Linked DNA regions of Homo sapiens. The protein of the gene in region 4 interacts with the protein of the main gene of each other region in a pairwise test. Each region holds a gene or a part of one and is shown on either strand. Other genes may lie near its edges.

Region 1 (4,513 bases), on a different chromosome or scaffold from region 4:
CTAGTCTCGAACTCATGGCCTCAGCTGATCTGCCAGCCTCGGCCTCCCAGTGTTGGGATTACAGGCGTGTGCTACCGCCCCTGGCCAGAAAGGATAGTCTTCAACAGACAGTGCTGGAACAAGATATCTTTAGGTAAAAAATGGGCTGGGCACAGTGGTCACACCTGTAATTCCAACATTCTTGGAGGCTAAGGCGGGTGCATTGCTTGAGTCCAGGAGTTCAAGACCAGCCTGGGCAACATAGCGAAACCCTGTCTCTATTAAAAAAAAATTTTAATTTAAAAATATATTAAAAATAAAAAAAAGTGGCCTGGTGCGATGGTTCATACCTGTAATCCCAGCACTTTGGGAGGCTGAGGCGGGTGGATCACCAGAGGTCGGGAGTTTGAGACCAGTCTGACGAACATGGAGAAACCCTGTCTCTCTTAAAAATACAGAATTAGCCAGGGTCGTGGCCCATGCCTGTAATCCCAGCTACTTGGGAGGCTGAGGCAGAATTGCTTGAACCTGGGAGGCGGAGGTTGCGGTGAGCCAAGGTTGCACCATTGCACTCCAGCGTGGGCAACAAGAGCGAAACTCTGTCTCAAAAAAATAAATAAGAATTTAAAAATTTAAAAAACATTGATCAATACCTCACCTTATATATAAAATTTAATTCAAAATGGATCATAGGCTGGGCACAGTGGCTCACATCTTTAATTCCAGCTTTGGGAGGCTGAGGCAGATGGATCACCTGAGGTCAGGAGTTCGAGACCAACCTGGCCAAGATGGTGAAACCCCGTCTCTACTAAAAATATAAAAAATTAGCCTGGTGTGGTGGCGGTTGCCTGTAATCTCAGCTACTCGTGAGGCTGAGGCAGGAGAATTGCTTGAACCCGGGGGGTGGAGGTTGCAGTGGGCCAAGATTGCGCCATTACACTCCAGCCTGGGTGACAGAGTGAGACTCTGTCTAAAAATAAAGGATTATAGATGTAAATGTAAAACAAAAAACTAAAAGTTTAAGAAGAAGACATAAGAGAAAACCTTTGTGGCCTTGGATTAGGCAAAGATTTCTTTTTCTTTTTCTTTTTTTTTTTTTTGAGATGGAGTTTTGCTCTTGTTGCCCAGGCTGGAGTGCAATGGCATGATCTTGGCTCACTGCAACCTCTGACTCTCAGGTTCAAGTGATTCTCTTTCCTCAGCCTCCCAAATAGCTGGGATTACAGACATGCACCACCACACCTGGCTAATTTTTGTATTTTTAGTAGAGACGGGGTTTCACCATGTTGGCAGGCTGGTCTCGAACTCCTGACCTCAGGTGATCTGCCTGCCTCGTCCTCCCAAAGTGCTGGGATTATAGGCGTGAGCCACTGTGCCTGGCCTGGGCAAAGATTTCTTAGATATGAAACCAAAAGCACAGTTGATAAAATAATAAATTCATAAGCTAGACCTTTTTCAAAATTAGAAATCCCTAATTGTATGTGAAAAATAGGGAGAAGGTAGAAAAATTGGGAGCATAGGGGTGAATGCATGGCTTTGGCCTCCTTAGTGAGGACACAGACCACAGGAGGTGGATCAGCTGTTCAGTCATCCCTCTTGCTCTTGTCAAAATATCAAGATTGGAGTCTTCCATAAATTTTATTATCCTTTATAAATTATCAGTGTCATTCTAGATTCAATTCTAGTATTAAAAAACCGATGTTTTTAAATTAAGTCTTAATTTTTCCTTCTGTAAATTGTGTTCATCACAATTTTGAACTTGTCTAGTGTTCCGATTATTGTCTTAGGACCCATGCATCAGGGCAGCGAGTCTGCTCAGATCTCTTGCTGTATTGCGGAGGTAGGCCCTTCTCTCTCGACAGATCCTCATGTCCTCTAGGTGTTCCAGGACAGCCTCACACTGTCTCATGGGATATTCTTAGCCTTGCTGAATGTTGTTGGTATTTTAATTGAACTCTGGCAGGCTGCTTAGCACAACAGGAGGCAGACAGATAGGGAGGCCCCTGTGGGAGCCTGAGTAGATCATTGGTTTCCAGGCTGTTCTGATGCAGGTGGTACATACACCTCTCCATGACAATATCATTTCCTTTCTCTGTTTGACTGCCCATATTCTTTCCCCAGTGCAGCCTTTCAGGCTGTCTCATTACACCACTTGTGTCCCTATCTAAAACTCAAGTTTAAGGTTTTGTGGTGTCTTATTCCCTTGATGGCTAAGGTGGAAGTAAAAGGTCATTTTATTTTTTTTGCTTTTTTCTAAAATCCATTCTAGGGCTTTGTGAAGGATGTCCATGAAGACTCTGTCACCATCTTCTTTGAAAACAAGTAAGACCTTGGGAATAGAGAATCCAGCATACTAGGTCCTAGAAGGAGAGTGGAGAAGAGGGGGCAGCTGAGTCCTATGAGGCATGTAATAGGTTGGGAGAGCTGAGGGTTTGGGTGGGAACTCATATGGATCCCAGGAGAGGAAAGGGCTGAGAATTTGGTGAGGGTGGGGGCATTTGACCCAGTATTTAGAGTCTAGAAAGAGATGGAAGACACTACTATGGAGCAGGGCCTGGGGTTTAGCCTCTAATTATCCAGATAGGTGGAACTCGCCCAGCTGAGGCAATAACCCTTTTGTAAAGAAATGGGCAACCATATCAGTCAGAGTAGCTTTTTCATATTATTGTTTCTATTATAGCTGGCAGAGTGAGAGACAAATTCCTTTTGGGGATGTCCGGCTACCACCTCCAGCTGACTATAATAAGGAGATCACAGAAGGGGATGAAGTGGAGGTAAGGGCTGTGGAGTACACCTTTCTAAATGTCACTTTTCCCCAGGATTCTAGGCTTTTCTCTGGTTGGTTCATGTTCCTTCCTCCCCAACTAAGCCATATCCAGCCATGTAGCCTATGGAAATGTAAAATGCAACAGTTCCCCTTTTATCACTGTTGTGATCAGCCAAACTCTCAGGAACATCCCCAGTTTCAGGCGATTTGCCTTCCATTTATGGTAACAACATCTAAAATCCAGTGCCCTCTGATTTTTTTGTTGTTGTTGTTGTTGTTGTTTTGAGATGGAGTCTTGCTCTGTTGCCCAGGCTGGAGTGCAGTGGCGCGATCTCAGCTAACTGCAACCTCCGCCTCTTGGGTTCAAGCAATTCTTCCACCTCAGCCTCCCAAGTAGCTGGGATTACAAGCACCTGCCATCATGCTCGGGTAATTTTTGCATTTTTGTAAAGACATGGTTTCACCATGTTGGCCAGGCTAGTCTTGAATTTCTGACTTCAGGTGATCCACCCGCCTCAGCTTCCCAAAGTGCTGGGATTACAGGCATGAGCCACCATGCCCTGCCGTCCTCTGATTTTAATTAGTTCCTTCCTCTGGTTTCTTGTATCCTTGGTTTAAGATACATCCCAGGCTGGATGCAGTGGCTCACACCTGAAATCCCAGCACTTTGAGAGGTCGAGTGGGGCAGATCACCTGAGGTCAGGAGTTCAAGACCAGCCTGGCCAACATGATGAAACCCCATCTCTACTAAAAATACAAAAAATTAGCTGGGCGTGGTGGCGGGCGCCTATAATCCCAGCTACTTGGGAGGCTGAGGCAGGAGAATCGCTTGAACCCAGGAAGTGGAGGTTGCAGTGAGCTGAGATTGTGCCATTGCACTCCAGCCTGAGCACCAAGAGCGAAACTCTGTCTCAAAAAAAAAAAAAAAAAGATGCATCCCAAATACCTTTTTTTTCTTTTTGAGATGAAGTCTCACTCTGTTGCCCAAGCTGGAGTGCAGTGGCGCGGTCTCAGCTCACTGCAACCTCCACCTCCTGGTTCAAGTGATTCTCCTGCCTCAGCCTCCTGTGTAGCTTGGAGTACAGGCATGTGGCACCACACCCGGCTAATTTTTGTATTTTTAGTAGAGGTGGGGTTTTACCATGTTGGCCAGGCTGGTCTTGAACTCCTGACTTCAGGTGATCAGCCCACCTCAGCCAAAGTCCTGGGATTATGGGCATAAGCCACCGCGCTTGGCCTCTTTTTTTTTCGTGGAAGTGGGGTCTCACTGTGTTGCCCAGATCGTTCTTGAACTCCTGAGCTCAAGAGATCCTCCCACCTTGGCCTTCCAAAGTGCTGGGATTATAAGCTTGAGCCACTGTGCCCAGCAGCCCCAAATATCTTAATGGTTGTTCTATTGTTTATGTTGCCCAAGCTGGTCTTGAACTCCTGGGCATAAGCAGTCCTTTTGCCTCAGCCTCCCAAAGCGCTGAGATTACAGGTGTGAGCCCCACCATGCCCGGCCTCCTCATCCCTTTCTTGATGCTTTTGGGTGGTCTTCAATATCTCTTTGATTCTCTACTTTTCTTTAGGTTTATTCTCGAGCCAATGAACAGGAACCTTGTGGCTGGTGGCTGGCCCGGGTGCGGATGATGAAGGGAGATGTGAGTGACTGGGAATGCCTTTGGAGAACTACTGAAACAAATATGTTATTCATAGAAAGTTGCTCAGGTCATCCACAACTTCTCCTTTTTTACCATGTGCCAGTTCTATGTCATTGAATATGCT
Region 2 (4,645 bases), on a different chromosome or scaffold from region 4:
CTTGTTGTCAGAGCCCAGAAGATTTGCATTTTTAAGCAAGCTCCCAGGTGGCTAGGGGACTAAGCACAGCACCCAGCCTAGATTCCTCACATTGCAAGGCCAGAAAGAGGATCCAGCATAATGCTAAGAGGTCAGCACACCAAGAAAATCCTGGGTTCTTCATTCAGGAAAGCCGCTGGGTGGCTGAGGACCCCAGGCACATTGTGGACATGCAGTACTTAGCCCACTGCACTTTGTCCCTGCCACATATTCCGAGGTGGGATGATGGGGGATAGAAGTAGGGTGCTGTCATCAGACAGACTTGAGCTCCACATCTAGCTCTGAACATAGCTATCTGAATTCTGGCAATCATTCCACATTTTTGAGTTTCAGTTTCTTACTATGAAAATTGATCATAGTATCTTTTTCCAAGAGTTTTGTGGGGATTAAATGACATAATGCATATCAAGCCCTTACCACAATGCCTGGTACATAGAAAGCACCAATGGATATTACTTGATACTAATTTATCAACAGACTGTGACCTTGCAGAGGGCAGGCAACAAACCAGTCCTGGCCCACAGAGGGCACTCAGTGTTTGTGGAACTGAAGAAAGCTATTAATTCTGTTGGCGCTAAACAAAGATCTGAGATTTCTACGAATATAAAGTCCACAAATACATAACCATAGAAATGAATTGGGGTGCAGCTGCCCTTTCCCCACTTCCATGTCCCCTACCCCATTTTCTCCCCTTCCCTTCCTGTCCTTCTACTTCTTCTTCTTTTTTTTTTTTTTTCTGAGACAGGGTCTTGCTCTCACTTTGTCACCCAGTCTGGGGTACAGTGGCACAATCTCAGCTCACTGTAGCCTCAACCTGCTGAGCTGAAGTGATCCTCCCACCTCAGCCTCCTGAGTAGTTAGGACCACAGGAATGGGCCACCATGCCCAGCTAATTTTTGTAGAGACAGGGTTTTGCCATGTTGCTTAGGCTGGTCTTGAACTCCTGGGTTCAAGCTGAGGCAGGGGTGAGGCACCGCATCCGGTGATAGCCCTTCCTTTCTTTGTATATGACTTTTCTCCTTCATTTTATGTAGTTATAATAATAACAAAAGCTAATGATTACTGCCTGCTAGCCACATGTCAGGCACTGTCCTCAGCTCTGCAGATGTGTTATCCCAGAGAATCCTCACAACAACCTGGGAGGCTGACTACGGCATGATCTTCACTTTAAGATGAGTAAACTGAGGAACAGGGAGGTTAGGAGACTTTCCCCAAGTCACACAACCTGAACATGATGGAACCAGAAAAGGAGGCCAAGCGGACTTTGTGCTCCAGATGCTGGAGCAGTGTGACTGTGTGTGTGTGTGTGGGGGGGGGGGGTGCAGTGTGTTTGTGATGTGGTGGCTATGTGTGTGTAACATATGTATGTGTACACAGTGTATGTGTGCATAGTGTGGTGTGTCTGTGGTGTGATGCATGTGTGGTTGTGATTGTGTGTGTGTAGGGAAGGTCAATGGCGGAGTGTGGAATGCTTGCCCTCTGCACCTGCCCCACCTGAGGCCCTTGCAGTTACCAAGTTCCAGTCCTACTGACCTCTCTCTTTCATCCTTGCTAACAGGAAGAGATCCTGCCACGCTGGGGGGAAGGGGAGAAAGCAGCCAGGAGGCCAAGGCAGGAGGATGAGGGTCAGCTATGAGAAGGAGTTGGGCTCTTCTGCCCCAGGCCTTTCCTCATTCTGTCCTTTCCTTGGTCTTGTGTGCACCAAATCCCCAAGACACCACCAAGAGTGTTTTCCAGGTCCTGTGGCCTGTGAGCATCTCCTGGATCAGCCTGAACCCATGGCGTTGATGGGCTGCTTGTCCCAGCATGAAGTTCCCCCAGCCTTGGGGCTGTGATGCCAACAGGACAGTGTGGCCCAGCAGGCTGCCTGGTCTCACCCTTGCAGCAGACTCTCTCCCACCATTTCATGAGTTTGTCATGCTGCTGGTGTGCCTCAGATCCAGGCTAGAGAGCATCTGCCTGGTGCTGCACACCAATGATGGGTGGAGCTGGGCTCTGCAGCCCCTCCGCGTGGCTGCCCTTGGAAGCATCTTGAATGCAGTGCCGTGGGTTCCAAAGGGCCAAGAGGATCCTCTTGTATTCCCTGCGGAAGTTTTGGTTCAAGAGCCCATAGACAATGGCATTCAGGCAGCTGTTGAAATAAGCCAGTAAGTAGCTAGTGACAAATAGCCCCTCAGGGATCTGGGGAGCCATTTCTTGGGGGTTGATGGCCACAGCGAGGCCGATGCAGTTAAGTGGAGCCCAGCAGATGGCAAAGATCACAAACACCACAAACATGGTTAGAAAGCTCCGCAAGTCGCTGGGCTTCAGGCACAGCCTGCTCTCTGGCTTGGCTTTCCTGCGGGCCTGAAGCACCAGCACCCAGATGCGCAGGTAGCAGAAGGACACGACAGCGATAGGGAGGAGGAAGTGGATGACCACCACTGCCGCCGTGTACTGGGTGCTGGCGGTCTGGATGAAGGTGCAGGAATAGATGCGTGGGTCGTACTCCAGGGACCCCACAAAGAAGTTGGGCAGCAAGGCCACCACGGTGAGGAGCCAGATGAGGCAGATGTGCAGAGGGGTGTGCCAGCGCCGGTAGATTCGGTGGTAGGCCATGCTGTGGCAGATGTAGCAGTAGCGGTTAATGGCGATGGCAGTGATATTGAAGACAGAGCCGATGACGCTCAGGCCCATCACAAAGGCGCTGGCCTTGCAGTGCTCCTCCCCCAGGGCCCAGCCGTCATAGAAGATGGCCACGAGGATTAGCGGGTAGGGGTAGAAGGCCACCACCAGGTCAGCCAATGCCAGACTCACCAAGAACAAATTACCTGAAGCAGCAAACAGAGCAACAGTCAGCACGAGACCCCACGACTTAGATTCTGTAGAACATCCTACCCTCCACGAAGTTACTTTTGGCAATGTGAGTGGAAACCAAGTGGCTCTTAGAGGCACAGAACTGAAGACTCAGATTGCATTTCTGCCACTCACTAGCTATATGACTGAGGCAAGCTGTTTAGGCTCTCAGAGCCCCATTTTCCTCATTTGTGAACTAGGGGCAGTGATACCTACCTCATAGTATAGCTGTAAGAATTAATGATACAAAGTGCTCAGGGATTTAACAGGTGCTGACACATGCTAACTGTTTCCATGATAGGCACAGATGCTCACGGGCTTTGCACCATTTAAGCTCCAGCAAAGATTTCGGAGGAGGAGAGTCTGAAAGTCAGGAGTGTGGATTTCTCATCACTATCATCGCTCCCTCACATTCCCTCACCTCCTCGCACATCTCTCTGGTTGTCTCCTTTTGCATTTTCTCCCCACTGGTTAACAGGCTACTTTCTAAGTGTCTTTACATGGGTTTTGTAAATGTGAATTGCATTTTGCAGCTGGACTAGAAGAAAGGTGTTGAGAGTGGGAACCATGTGTTTCTGGTATTCCCATTTGTGCCCTGTCTGGGTCCAGTACTCCCAGCCTTGTGGCCATGTTGACAGACACTTGCAGTAGCGGCACAGAGCCCCAGCCCTGTGGGGTGAGAAAGGGCTGTCAGCACTCCTAAGCTCACAGCCTCTGGGGGGCCTCCCTGCTTTGCCTGCACCATGGTGGCCTTCCTGGACTATCTAGGCATTTATCCTTTGAATGGAGCCTTATCCAACATCACCAAGCTTGGTCAACCAGAGAGAGCCTCAGGAAATGATACACCCATCAATTAATATGCTTCAGGCATGTTCTAAGCTGGAGTCCCAGGGCAGAGGCAGGGCTTACTCTAAAAGAACACAATCTCTGCTCCTCAAGTGTTTGCGTTCTAAAACCAACACTGACTCACGAATAGAGCACCAAGAACCTAAACGTTTGGGCAATACAAAGCTCATAGTGTGAGCAGTTCCATCACTAATGCCAATCTTCTCATTCACCAAGTGTTGTACTTTTTGAATACCTACTGTATGCTCAAAAGATAACAGACTCTCCCTCCAGCAGGGTCCCTGAGTGATGCAATGTGCACTGGGCATGGTATTTTAAATTTTCTGGTCTCTTGCCACATGGTGAAGCCTCCAGCCTTAGGGTGGCGGAATGCAGAGGGCGGCTGGGATGGTGTGCAGGAGGAACTCCCAAGTCAGCAAAGACACAGACATGGAAACTCCACAGCCACCATGTGTCTGTCCCATTGCCACAGAGGCTGTGGTGGCTTTGGGGGTCTAGAGGGTCAGGCAGGTGGAAAGAGCCCCCAAAGCACAGCAATTGGAGAGGCCAGGCTCTGTGTGGATTCCACGGGGTACAGAAAAAGGGAGGCTGAGAGCCGCCCAGCTGGGATTTCACCTGAGTCAGCCCTTCAAGTGAAGTAGATGGCACACCTGGACTTATTCACCCACAAGGGTAGGAAAAGGACTGCCTCCAGCCTTCCCACATTCACCCCATCTCAAAGAAGATTCCCCATAGCATGGTCCGAATGGGGATGGGAACTTGAAAGACCCTCAGGAAGCCTTCATGAAGGGCCTATTTTGACCTCAGAGGAATGGGGTCAACCCCACTGAGAACCCACACAAGTCTACTGGAGTCCTGGGAGTTCTCAAGACCTAACTATAATACTACTGTGTCCACAGCTAGGTTAGGAAACCAGGGAGACAGG
Region 3 (4,513 bases), on a different chromosome or scaffold from region 4:
CGTGAACTCCTGACCTCAGGTGACCCAACCACCTTGGCCTCCCAAAGTGTTGGGGTTACAGGTGTGAGCCACCACGCCCAGCCTGTTGACTTTTATTTCGAAAGGAGTTGGTACATTTCAGGAAGTGACCAACAGGTCTTGGTTTGGTGCTAAGTAGGAGACAACTTAGAGCTCCACAGATCATAGAGAATCCCAACCATTTTTGCCTCCATTCCTATCTTCACCTACATTCCCACACCCACACCACCCACCAAAACACTTCTGGTCCCAGGCATTTCAGAAAAAGGATACTCAACCTGTATGCAGATATCAGAGGCGATCAGAACAAGCAACAGAATGAGGGCTTATGATGGTTCAGTGGCGGGGGGAACCCAGCATGGACATAAGATACCTGGGGGAGTAGGAAGATAGTTCACCAAAACAATCCTGACAGCCCCTCATCATTGGGACCATTATTTATCATTAGATAAATAATGACGGCTGACTGCTCATTATTTATCATTAGATAAATAATGACTGCTTATTATTTACCCCCTAATTTCTGGACATTTCCTTGCCTTCTGCTTCACTGTTCCCTGAGCCTGATTGCCTTCCCTCTCTCCCTCTTACACGTGCCTTATTTCATCTCATCCCTAAGCAGCTTTTTCTAGCTTAGTTCTAATGTCTTCCTCTCAGTCAGTACGCACTGGGATCCAGAAGCACGAGATACTAAAGTGTTTAGGGTTATTTCCTGCCCTGAAGCATCTCAGCCTAGCAGGAAAACAGGCATGCAGATGCAATTTACTTTTTTTTTTTTTTTTTTTGAAACGGAATCTCGCTCTGTCGCCCAGGCTGGTGTGCAGTGGCGCAATCTCAGCTCACTGCAAGCTCCCCCTGCTGGGTTCACGCCATTCTCCTGCCTCAGCCTCCCAAGTAGCTGGGACTACAGGGGCCCGCCACCACGCCCGGCTAATTTTTTTGTATTTTTAGTAGAGAAGAGGTTTCACCGTGTTAGCCAGGATGGCTATGATCTCCTGACCTCGTGATCCGCCCGCCTCACCTCCCAAAGTGCTGGGATTACAGGCGTGGGCCACCACGCCTGGGCCATTTTTTTTTTAAACCTGCTCCTTACACATTTATTACATCATAATAATTTGCCTTCTCTCTCTCTCTTTTTTTTTTTTTGGAGACGGAGTCTTACTCTGTTGCCCAGGCTGGAGTGCAGTGGTGCGGTCTTGGCATATTGCAACCTCTGTCTCCTGGGTTCAAATGATTCTCCTGCCTCAGCCTCCTGAGTAGCTGGAACTACAGGTGTGTGCCACTACGCCCCGCTAATTTTTTGTATTTTTAGTAGAGACGGGTTTTCACCACGTTAGCCAGGATGGTCTTGATCTCCTGACCTGGTGATCTGCCCATTTCGGCATCCCAAAGTGCTGGGATTAGAGGCGTGAGCCACTGTGCCCGACCTGAGATGAGGTTTTACCATGTTGGCCAGGCTAGTCTTGAAGTCCTGACCTCAAGTGATCCGCCCATCTCCGCCTCCAAAAGTGCTGAGATTACAGGTGTGAGCCACAGTATCCGGCCTGCCTTCTCTCTTATTTACAGGAATTTACATTTATCTTGTCCCACCTACTAGATTAGTAGTTCCTAAACTTCAGTGTATATAGAAATCACTTGGAGAGCTTATTTAACATGCAAATTCCAAAGTCTCACCCCTAGAGTGGGCTGGTGGTTCCCTCGCCCCTTGCTACTGGAATGTGGACCAGGGACCAGGACCAGCAGCACTCCCTGCAAGTTGATAAAAATACCAAATCCTGGGCCCCTACCCTGAATGAGAACCAGCATCATGAAGATCCCTGGGTATTCATTCCCACATTAAAGTTTGAGAGTGAGAGTCCAGCTCAGTATTTCTCAAACTTGCCTGAGACCCATAGTAGGCAATGTATTTTATGCTTGACACCCACCATACCCACATATACCCATGTGAAATAGAAATTTCACAAAACAATCCTTACTCTTAAGGGATTCCCATCAATATTTTCTATTCTACTCTATACTTTTTTTTTTTTTTAATGTGGGTCTTGACCACTAAATTGATTTCCCACCCCACTAAGACATGCAACTCTGCAACCCACCATTTGAAAAACACTGCTCTAGTGATTAGACTTCAGCTACATTAGCCTGGGCAGAGATGAATCAGAAACTGGCTCACCTATGGTAGAAGTTACATCCATTTAGTACGTTTTCTTTTACTCTTGGGGTGGAAGGTAGGGAAGAAGAACAAGTCTTTATAAATAGGAGTATATATCTTTATAAATAGGAGTAGCTTCCGCAGCTTTGGGAAATTGAGGATGCTTTCCTTCACCTGGGTAATTCCCCCCTGGTTAGAGACACTCTCGGTTAGTCCTCTGCATTAGCCTTTAGGAGGGAGGAGCTGTGCATGGAGGGTTTGTGGAAAAGAGCCCAGTCCTTCTACTGGGATGCCCTCATTGGGCAAGGCGAGGGTGTGCACTCACCTTCAGAGGGCCCAGATGGCTGCTTCCCCGGCTCTGTGACCTGAAGGCTCACAGGAATATCCAGAAATTTCTCATAGCAGTCTCCATACCACACAAGGAGCTCTTGGTTCTGATGGATCTCTTTGCAGCTCTCATAAAATATATGCCCTTGACACTGCACAGCAACTAGGTTCTGCTCCTTGGGGAAGCGGGCACAGTTGACATAGGACATCCAGTTCCCCGTACCTCCTTTTCCATCTATAAAGTGGCTCAAATGACCATCTTCAAAGATCTAAATGAAATAAGACATGAAGTTTGTATTGTACTTCTTTTTTGGTCTAATCTATAAAATAAATTTTTTAATACTTGTAACCTAAATATCACACTTGAGTCCACCAAATACACTTCTATCATTCTGATTTTTATGTCATTACAAGTAGTTTATAAATTTACTTATGCCAACATAGATTTGTTAGTTTAAGGACACCTCTCTAGGTAATGTCACATATTGGGTTTGTTTGTTTTTTTCAGAGACAGAGTCTCACTCTGTTGCCCAGACTGGAGTGCAGTGGCTCAATCACAGGTCACAGTAGCCTCGAATTCCTGGGCTCAAATGATCCTCCCACCTTAGCCCCCTGAGTAGCTGGAACTAAAGGCATGCACCATCACGCCTGGCAAATTTTTTTAAAAAAATTTTTTGTAGAGACAGGGCCTCACTCTTTCCTAGGCTGGCCTCAAACTCCTGGGTTCAAGTGATCCTCCCACCTTGGCCTCCTAAAGTGCTAGAATTACAGGTGTAAGCCACTGAGCCTGCCTAATGTGACATATTCTAAAAGATTCTTACTTTTATCACTTTCTTGCTTCCCAAATTCCTATAGTGAGCACATGTTAATTTCATAAGCAGAGGTAAGTGAAACAAAAAGGTTTTATTTAATTCCACCACTTAAACACAACTGAATAGTTTTATATTTTACTCCCAGTTAGGTTTCATGCATATTAATGGAGCTATAGATTATTTCTTTCAAGGCCGGGCCTGGTGGCTCACACCTGTAATCCCCGCACTTTGGGAGGCCAAAGCAGGCGGATCATGAGGTCAGGAGTTCGAGACCAGCCTGGCCAACATGGTGAAACCCCTCTCTACTAAAAATACAAAAATTAGCCGGGCATGGTGGCACATGCCTGTAATCCTAGCTACTCGGAAGACTGAGGCAAGAGAATTGCTTGAACCCAGGAGGTGGAGGTCACAGTGAGCTGAGATCACGCCACTGCACTCCAACCTGGGTAACAGACAAAAACTCCGTCTCAAGAAAAAAAAAACAAAAAAAAAAAAACAAAGAAAGATTACTTCTTTCTCTGCTGCTGGCAATTTCGCTGTCTCCAACATTTTGTTATTATAAACAACCCTAGGATTAACATATTCCACATAGCCTCAATTTCAGATTATTTTCCTGTACTATATTCCTAGAAGTAGAAATTCAGGGTCAAGGGACTTTGAACATTTTAAGGTATCTGATACATTCTGACAAATTTTCTCCTGCAGGTAATAAACTGCAGTCCCACTAGCATATCCCTAATATATCATCACTAGATCTTGAAGAGTATCTGGTTATTTTTTTTTTAATCCTTGACTAATTTTATAGGTGAATAATATTGAATTTTAAAACTTGTTTTTATTCTCTTTAGCATAGTTTCAGCACTCTATAATATCTAAAGCATTTAGTTTTGTCTATAAATATAATACAACATATTGATTCTTTAAATGTATATTCCATTGCTAATCTTCCAGACTAAAATGACTTAAGGCACCCACAAAACACAGAATTCATGCAGAGGTGCTATCCTCATGGAGCAAACACTGGCCGTTCCTTCCTTTTACAGGCAACACAAACCACAGATATCTGCCCTGGATGTCCTCTCTCTCTGACCAGGACTCTCCCAAAAGGGCAAAGGCCAAGATTTCCCCGGACTAGTCTCCCGCCCCATTTTCAGCAGCAGACCCACCAGAAACAGATTTACCTCCCACATCACAGAATTGTCTC
Region 4 (5,528 bases):
GAACTTGGTTGGGGGCTGGTGCTGAGAGAAATGAGAAGTATGAAAGCAGGAAGCCGCTCTTTATCTTTCTAATGCAATTTTGTATCTTTCCAATATATAGCAATTTCTTCTCAAGAAGCAACCTACCTTCCAGGTTACATTTAGTGGACACGGAGGCTCTTAGCTTAAGCTGTAAAAGCTTTAGATCCTCTTCAACTACCGATATTGCAGTCTGTGTCTAAAAATTGCAGAAGAGACAAGTATTCATAAAAGTGAGGCATAGTAAAAGTATTCACAGGCAATTATGGGACTCTAAAAACGATTATACCCGAGAGACATCCATCATCTGCTTAATTTGATTTTTCATCTTCTCATTCCGGTCACCTAAAAAACAAAAGGCTTTCTTTCATTGCTTTTTCTTCCCTTGCTTTTTAAATCTATATTTTCTTGATTTACCCAAAACTAAACAATTGTCATGTTCAAACATTTAAAGAACAAACAAAAACAGAAAAGGATTAGACTGACTTTTAAGAGAACTGCAAACTTAAGACTGAAAAAGTGAATTCCCATTTGTACAATAAACATGTTATACATGCCATTATTGAGCAAGAAGAAACATGTGAGATAAAGCTCTTTCTTCCATCTGGGCTTAGTGTCTTATTCAGAAAGATTCCCTCCTATTCTCCTCCAGAATCTACTACCAGGTGTGGTTTAAAACACCCACTACACAAGCAATATCCAACTTGAGAGAGGGCATCTAGAAACATTTTCCTCATCAGTAAACACTGCAACACTATAGCCTCCACTCTCATGGCCTTAGTTTATGGATCCAACCACCTCAGTACTCTCAAAACCAGTTGTGGTTTTCTTTCATGGCCTTAGTCAGTTTATGCCTCCAACCACCTCAGTACTCTTAAAACCAGTTGTGGGCCTTAAAACCACACAGCTACTGAGATGACAAGTTTTAAAATGTTATCTCCATGAAATTGAAAAACAAGTTTCTACTACTGTATGTGTCCAATACTTAGAGGTGTAAGACATGACCAGTGCAGCTCCCGTGCACCCTTCTAGTCTCAATGTGAAAACAAAGTCAGTGTTCACTGCATGCTTACTGCTACACCTCACCCTAGCAATCCACCTCTGCCCAATGCAAACAGACACACATTCAAATCCAATGTATTTACACCTCGAAAGCTTAAGAGGAAATGCAGCCAGCTGAAAAGTAGCACTGGTGCACTTAAAGACAGGAAGGCAAAAGGGGTCCATCCTCCTTGAGGCTGATCTTACCTCCCACTTCTCCATTTGCTAATTCATCTGAATCATTTCCACCTTTATTTTGACCCTCAGATTCAGATTCACACTCTAACAGATTCAACTGTGTAATGCAGTTAGTCAAAGCCTAGAAAAGAAGTAAAAGGGCATTAAGAGTCTTTCCATTTAATTCAACAGATTTGATAATTCACAAGAATTAAGCTTGTATTCATGAACGCACTTACATTAATATTATCATCCTTGTGAGTAAGAGCTACTTCCAAATCTTTCTGAGACTTCTCAAATGATTTGATTTGCTCACTGAGCTCAGCATGTAATTTACTCCAGTCTTCGATTTCCTGCTGCAACTGCAAAGTTAAAACACATGATTCCCACAGGTTAGGGCTTTTGCACTGGAGACATTAGGACCACATGAATGAGACAGGTAAATAAGGAACCATGCCTCTCCTTGGCCTATCACTATGGGCTAAGACCTTGGTTAAGTGGGAGGAGACAGTGGCCCCAACCCTCAGAGCTGTAGTGAGAACATCAGAGCTATCAAGGAAATTGATCTTGTTTATTGCATCCTTCAGAAAATTGTAGCCAATTCAAATAATTCACTTCCAGAAGGAACAGAAGGGCTCATCCTACTATCTCCCAAGTCCACACTCCTGATCATGTAACCTTCCCTTGGCTAGTGAAGCAGTAACTACTCAAAGGAGGGTTATAAAATATCTAACTCTTGGGTCTAAAAAGCCAATCTACTACCCACTCGAGGCTACTCAAGTTAATAGCAATTGGTGTCTGACAAAACAAGACTACACACTCTGATAGCCAAAATAAATTGTACAGAACAGAAAATCCAGAACAGATAGAGAATGTATACCTACACTCAATTTTGGAAGCATAGTTTAAACTTTGCATATCTAAGAACAGAATCCTGCACATATATTACCCTAAAAATAGATCTGAGTAAAGGCATTCATGAGGTATGATACTGAGTTCTCTATTTTACATGACCTGGGACACGCACTTTCCTTTACCTGCTCTTTTTTCTTCTTAAGCCTAGCATTTTCTTCTTGAACCCGATGGCATTCAGACTTCACCTTCTCTTCACTAAGCTTAGCTTCATTAAGTGCAATCTGAACCTAATGCAAAACACTCCTATTAGTGAATTAATTCCAAAGAAAACCAGAAAAAGTTACTTTTCCAACCCAACATCATGTAGTTTTCATTTTTTGCACATTTTAGCATATATCAAATTTTTGCTCTGCAATCAAACTATGATATAGTATTAATATCCTGCAGGAATTACAGTCAGCTTTACCTCTGAAAATTCTGAGGCATTCATTGAAATAACATCCTTTAACTTCTCTATAGATTTCTTGTTTTCTGATATCTGCCATGTAAAAACAGAACACAAAATGCATATTAGGATTTTAGTAGAAACACTGGGATACATACTAAGAAGAAGAAACATCAACAAAGTATGTCCCAGAGCCATCCCCTATGTTTCAGGTAAAAGCAGGTGTTTCAGTTTTGCCCTCGGGAAAAATCAAGAACTTAAAGAGGTAAGGGAAAATAATCAAAGGCATAAATATTTCACAGCATACACAACCTTCCTGGTTAGAATAAAATGTGGTAGATGACCAGACTAAAAGGTGAAAGAAAAGAAACTGAAAAAACTTTTAAGTAAACCAGTTCAAATCAATGTGACTTTTTTTTTTCTTGTGGCAAGAGAAAAAAATAATCCCCAAGGTACTTTAATTTAGTACAATTTGACAATTGTTTTGTCAAACACCAATTGCTCTTGCCTAAATTAAAAATGGTAGGATTGGAGTGAGAATAGACAGATCACCCATATAGAATTCTAGATAATTTATGAAGATTCTGGCTCCTCAAGAGGATGGAGCATAACCCTTCACTTTTTAACTGTGGGCTGCGATAGTAACTTCCTTCCAAAGAGTACAATAATGCAAAAAGTTTAAAAAAAAAAAAAGTAATTTTACAGTGAAGAAACCTGGCAATACTACCTCAACGAGGTCATCAAGATTAATAGGGTGTGGGATTTATGGAACCCTCTCTACTATCTTTGCAACTTTTAGGTCATTCTAAAACTATTCTATTAATAAAATAAAATGTTTATAGCAAAAAAAAAAAAAAACTTTGCAAAACAAAACAAAACACAAGGACTGTTCAACTGGGTTTCTTAGTTGTTCCACATGTTTCGGAGGGCAGAGCCAAGCAATATGACAATTACCTAGGGTTGAGAACCAAAATACTTCCTAGGCCTGTAAGAATAATTTCTTGTGTAAGTACTTAAAATTCCACAAAAATGGACAGAAGTAGGTTCAACTTCCCTGACTCGCACTCTTACTTCACATAACAGCATGGAAAATAAAGAGTTCAACTCAATCTACAAAAGAGTTCAAAACCCAAATTATTAGTAATACTTAGCAGCAAAACTCTTACCAAGTCCTGATTCTTGACATTCTGTTCTCTCTCAGATTCTAGCATAACACGAAGATTTTTAGCTGTGTCATCCAGAATTTCCTGATTTTTTTCAAGTGTCTTGATTTTATCCTACAAAAAAGATATTAAGGTTAGTTATACTCATTACTTTTACTTTTGTTTTAAAATGTAATCCCCAAAAGAAGTTTTTACCTTATATTTAATTGCTTCATCAGAGAGAATCATATTTTGTTTCCTGGTTTCCTGAACATGTTTCTTTGATTCCTTGATCTATATAAAATAAAGCATTCAGAATCCAGAAATATAAAGTATAGTGCTACCAGAACTTATTTTCAAGTGACTGACCTCTTACAGAAGAAAACAGTACTTTACACATATGACTGCTTAAGATCTGGATGGTTTATAGGAATTAATGTAATAATAAATACTATTTAAAAATACCATAGTAACTGAACTATAAGATAGGTGACAAATAATTCAAGCTGGGACCATGAAAAAAAAAAAAAACAAAGAATAATCATACCTTCTGTTCATAATTTGACAATTTTTGTACAAGTTCTGTATTTTCTTTCATGATAGTCTTCAACTTCTCAGAAATTTGCTGTTCCGTGACTGAAAAAAGAAAAAAATAATAAGGTTATTATGATCACTAAATGAAATTGAATTACCCAATGTATCAGCAGCAAAGACATGTTATCTTGCACTATGACAAAAAATAACTTCTCAGCATAACTATTATGGTTTTAAAAAGTGATATGGTTTGGTTCTGTGTCTCCATCAAATCTCATAACAAATTATAGTACCCAGTGTTCAGGTGGGGCCTGGTGGAAGGTGATTGGATCATAAGGGTAGATTTCTCATGAGTGGTTTATCACCATCCCTGTGGTGCTATTCTGTGATGGTGACTGAGTTCTTGTGGAATCTGGTTTTAAAAGTGTGCAGCACCTCCCCGCTCACTCTCTCTTGCTCCTGCTCCCACCATGTAAGATGGCCTGCTCTCGCTTTGCCTTCTGCTGTGAGTAAAAGCTCCCTGAGGCCTCCTCAGAAGCAGATGCCGCTATACTTCCTATAGCCTGCAGAAACATGAGCTAATTAAACTTCTTATAAATTACCCAGTATCAGGTATTTCTTTTTTTGAGACAGGGTCTTGCTCTGTTGTCCAGGCTGGAGTTTAGTGGTGCAATCTCAGCTCACTGCAAAGTCCGCCTCCCAAGCTCAAGCAATCCTCCTGCCTCAGCCTCCTGAGTAGCTGGGACTACAGGTGTGTGCCACCACACCCAGCTAACTTTTATATTTTTTTTATAGAGATGGGGTTTCTCCATGTTGCCCAGGCTGGTCTCGAACTCCTGAGCTCAAGCAATCCTCCGCTTTGGCCTCCCAAAGTGTTGGGATTACAGGCATGAGCCACCACACCAGGCCTTGGGTATTTCTTTATAGCAGTGTGAGAACAGATTAATACAAAAAGCAATCTGCTAACAAGAATAAGGATGTAAAAATACGGTTAGAATTTAAGAAAAATATAATAAGAACCTTTATTTCAATGAGAGTTTAATTTATTTCCAAGATGGGAAATACAGTAAAATGTTATAGCTCAATATTCCTCCCTGCATGAAGCATCTTTCTTCTCAGAAAATGGCATCACTTCAAATATGTCATTTGCAAAGAGAAACAGAAAATGCAGGCGTGCTGATTTATATTTCTAGTTCTCAAATTATCTACTTAAATAAATATTTAATGTACTGACTAAATCATTAGCACAGGGACACTGGTCACATGTAATAAATTGGTACTACATCAACATTTAAGGTCAATCTGCCCCAAATTAA

The links. The genes of interacting proteins can lie anywhere in the genome.
Region 1: the proteins of MIA3 (region 4) and FXR2 interact in binary tests that used the Homo sapiens proteins (3 or more experiments, as listed by UniProt).
Region 2: the proteins of MIA3 (region 4) and MTNR1B interact in a two-hybrid assay, tested with the Homo sapiens proteins (one large-scale study listed by BioGRID and IntAct).
Region 3: the proteins of MIA3 (region 4) and PRDM14 interact in binary tests that used the Homo sapiens proteins (3 or more experiments, as listed by UniProt).

The regions. Positions count from the first base shown.
Region 1 is NC_000017.11:7,603,885-7,608,397, reverse strand, and holds part of FXR2 (RNA-binding protein FXR2), read left to right. Parts: intron 1-2,248; coding exon 2,249-2,301; intron 2,302-2,659; coding exon 2,660-2,753; intron 2,754-4,317; coding exon 4,318-4,389; intron 4,390-4,492; coding exon 4,493-4,513. UniProt on the Homo sapiens protein: mRNA-binding protein that acts as a regulator of mRNAs translation and/or stability, and which is required for adult hippocampal neurogenesis. Specifically binds to AU-rich elements (AREs) in the 3'-UTR of target mRNAs.
Region 2 is NC_000011.10:92,979,651-92,984,295, reverse strand, and holds the end of MTNR1B (melatonin receptor type 1B), read right to left. Parts: intron 2,850-4,645; coding exon 1,984-2,849; 3' UTR 1,514-1,983; downstream 1-1,513.
Region 3 is NC_000008.11:70,063,740-70,068,252, forward strand, and holds part of PRDM14 (PR domain zinc finger protein 14), read right to left. Parts: coding exon 4,491-4,513; intron 2,767-4,490; coding exon 2,496-2,766; intron 1-2,495. UniProt on the Homo sapiens protein: Transcription factor that has both positive and negative roles on transcription. Required for the maintenance of embryonic stem cell identity and the reacquisition of pluripotency in somatic cells.
Region 4 is NC_000001.11:222,649,078-222,654,605, reverse strand, and holds part of MIA3 (transport and Golgi organization protein 1 homolog isoform 1 precursor), read right to left. Parts: intron 4,315-5,528; coding exon 4,226-4,314; intron 3,973-4,225; coding exon 3,895-3,972; intron 3,814-3,894; coding exon 3,703-3,813; intron 2,630-3,702; coding exon 2,558-2,629; intron 2,379-2,557; coding exon 2,274-2,378; intron 1,599-2,273; coding exon 1,476-1,598; intron 1,379-1,475; coding exon 1,267-1,378; intron 364-1,266; coding exon 308-363; intron 218-307; coding exon 127-217; intron 1-126.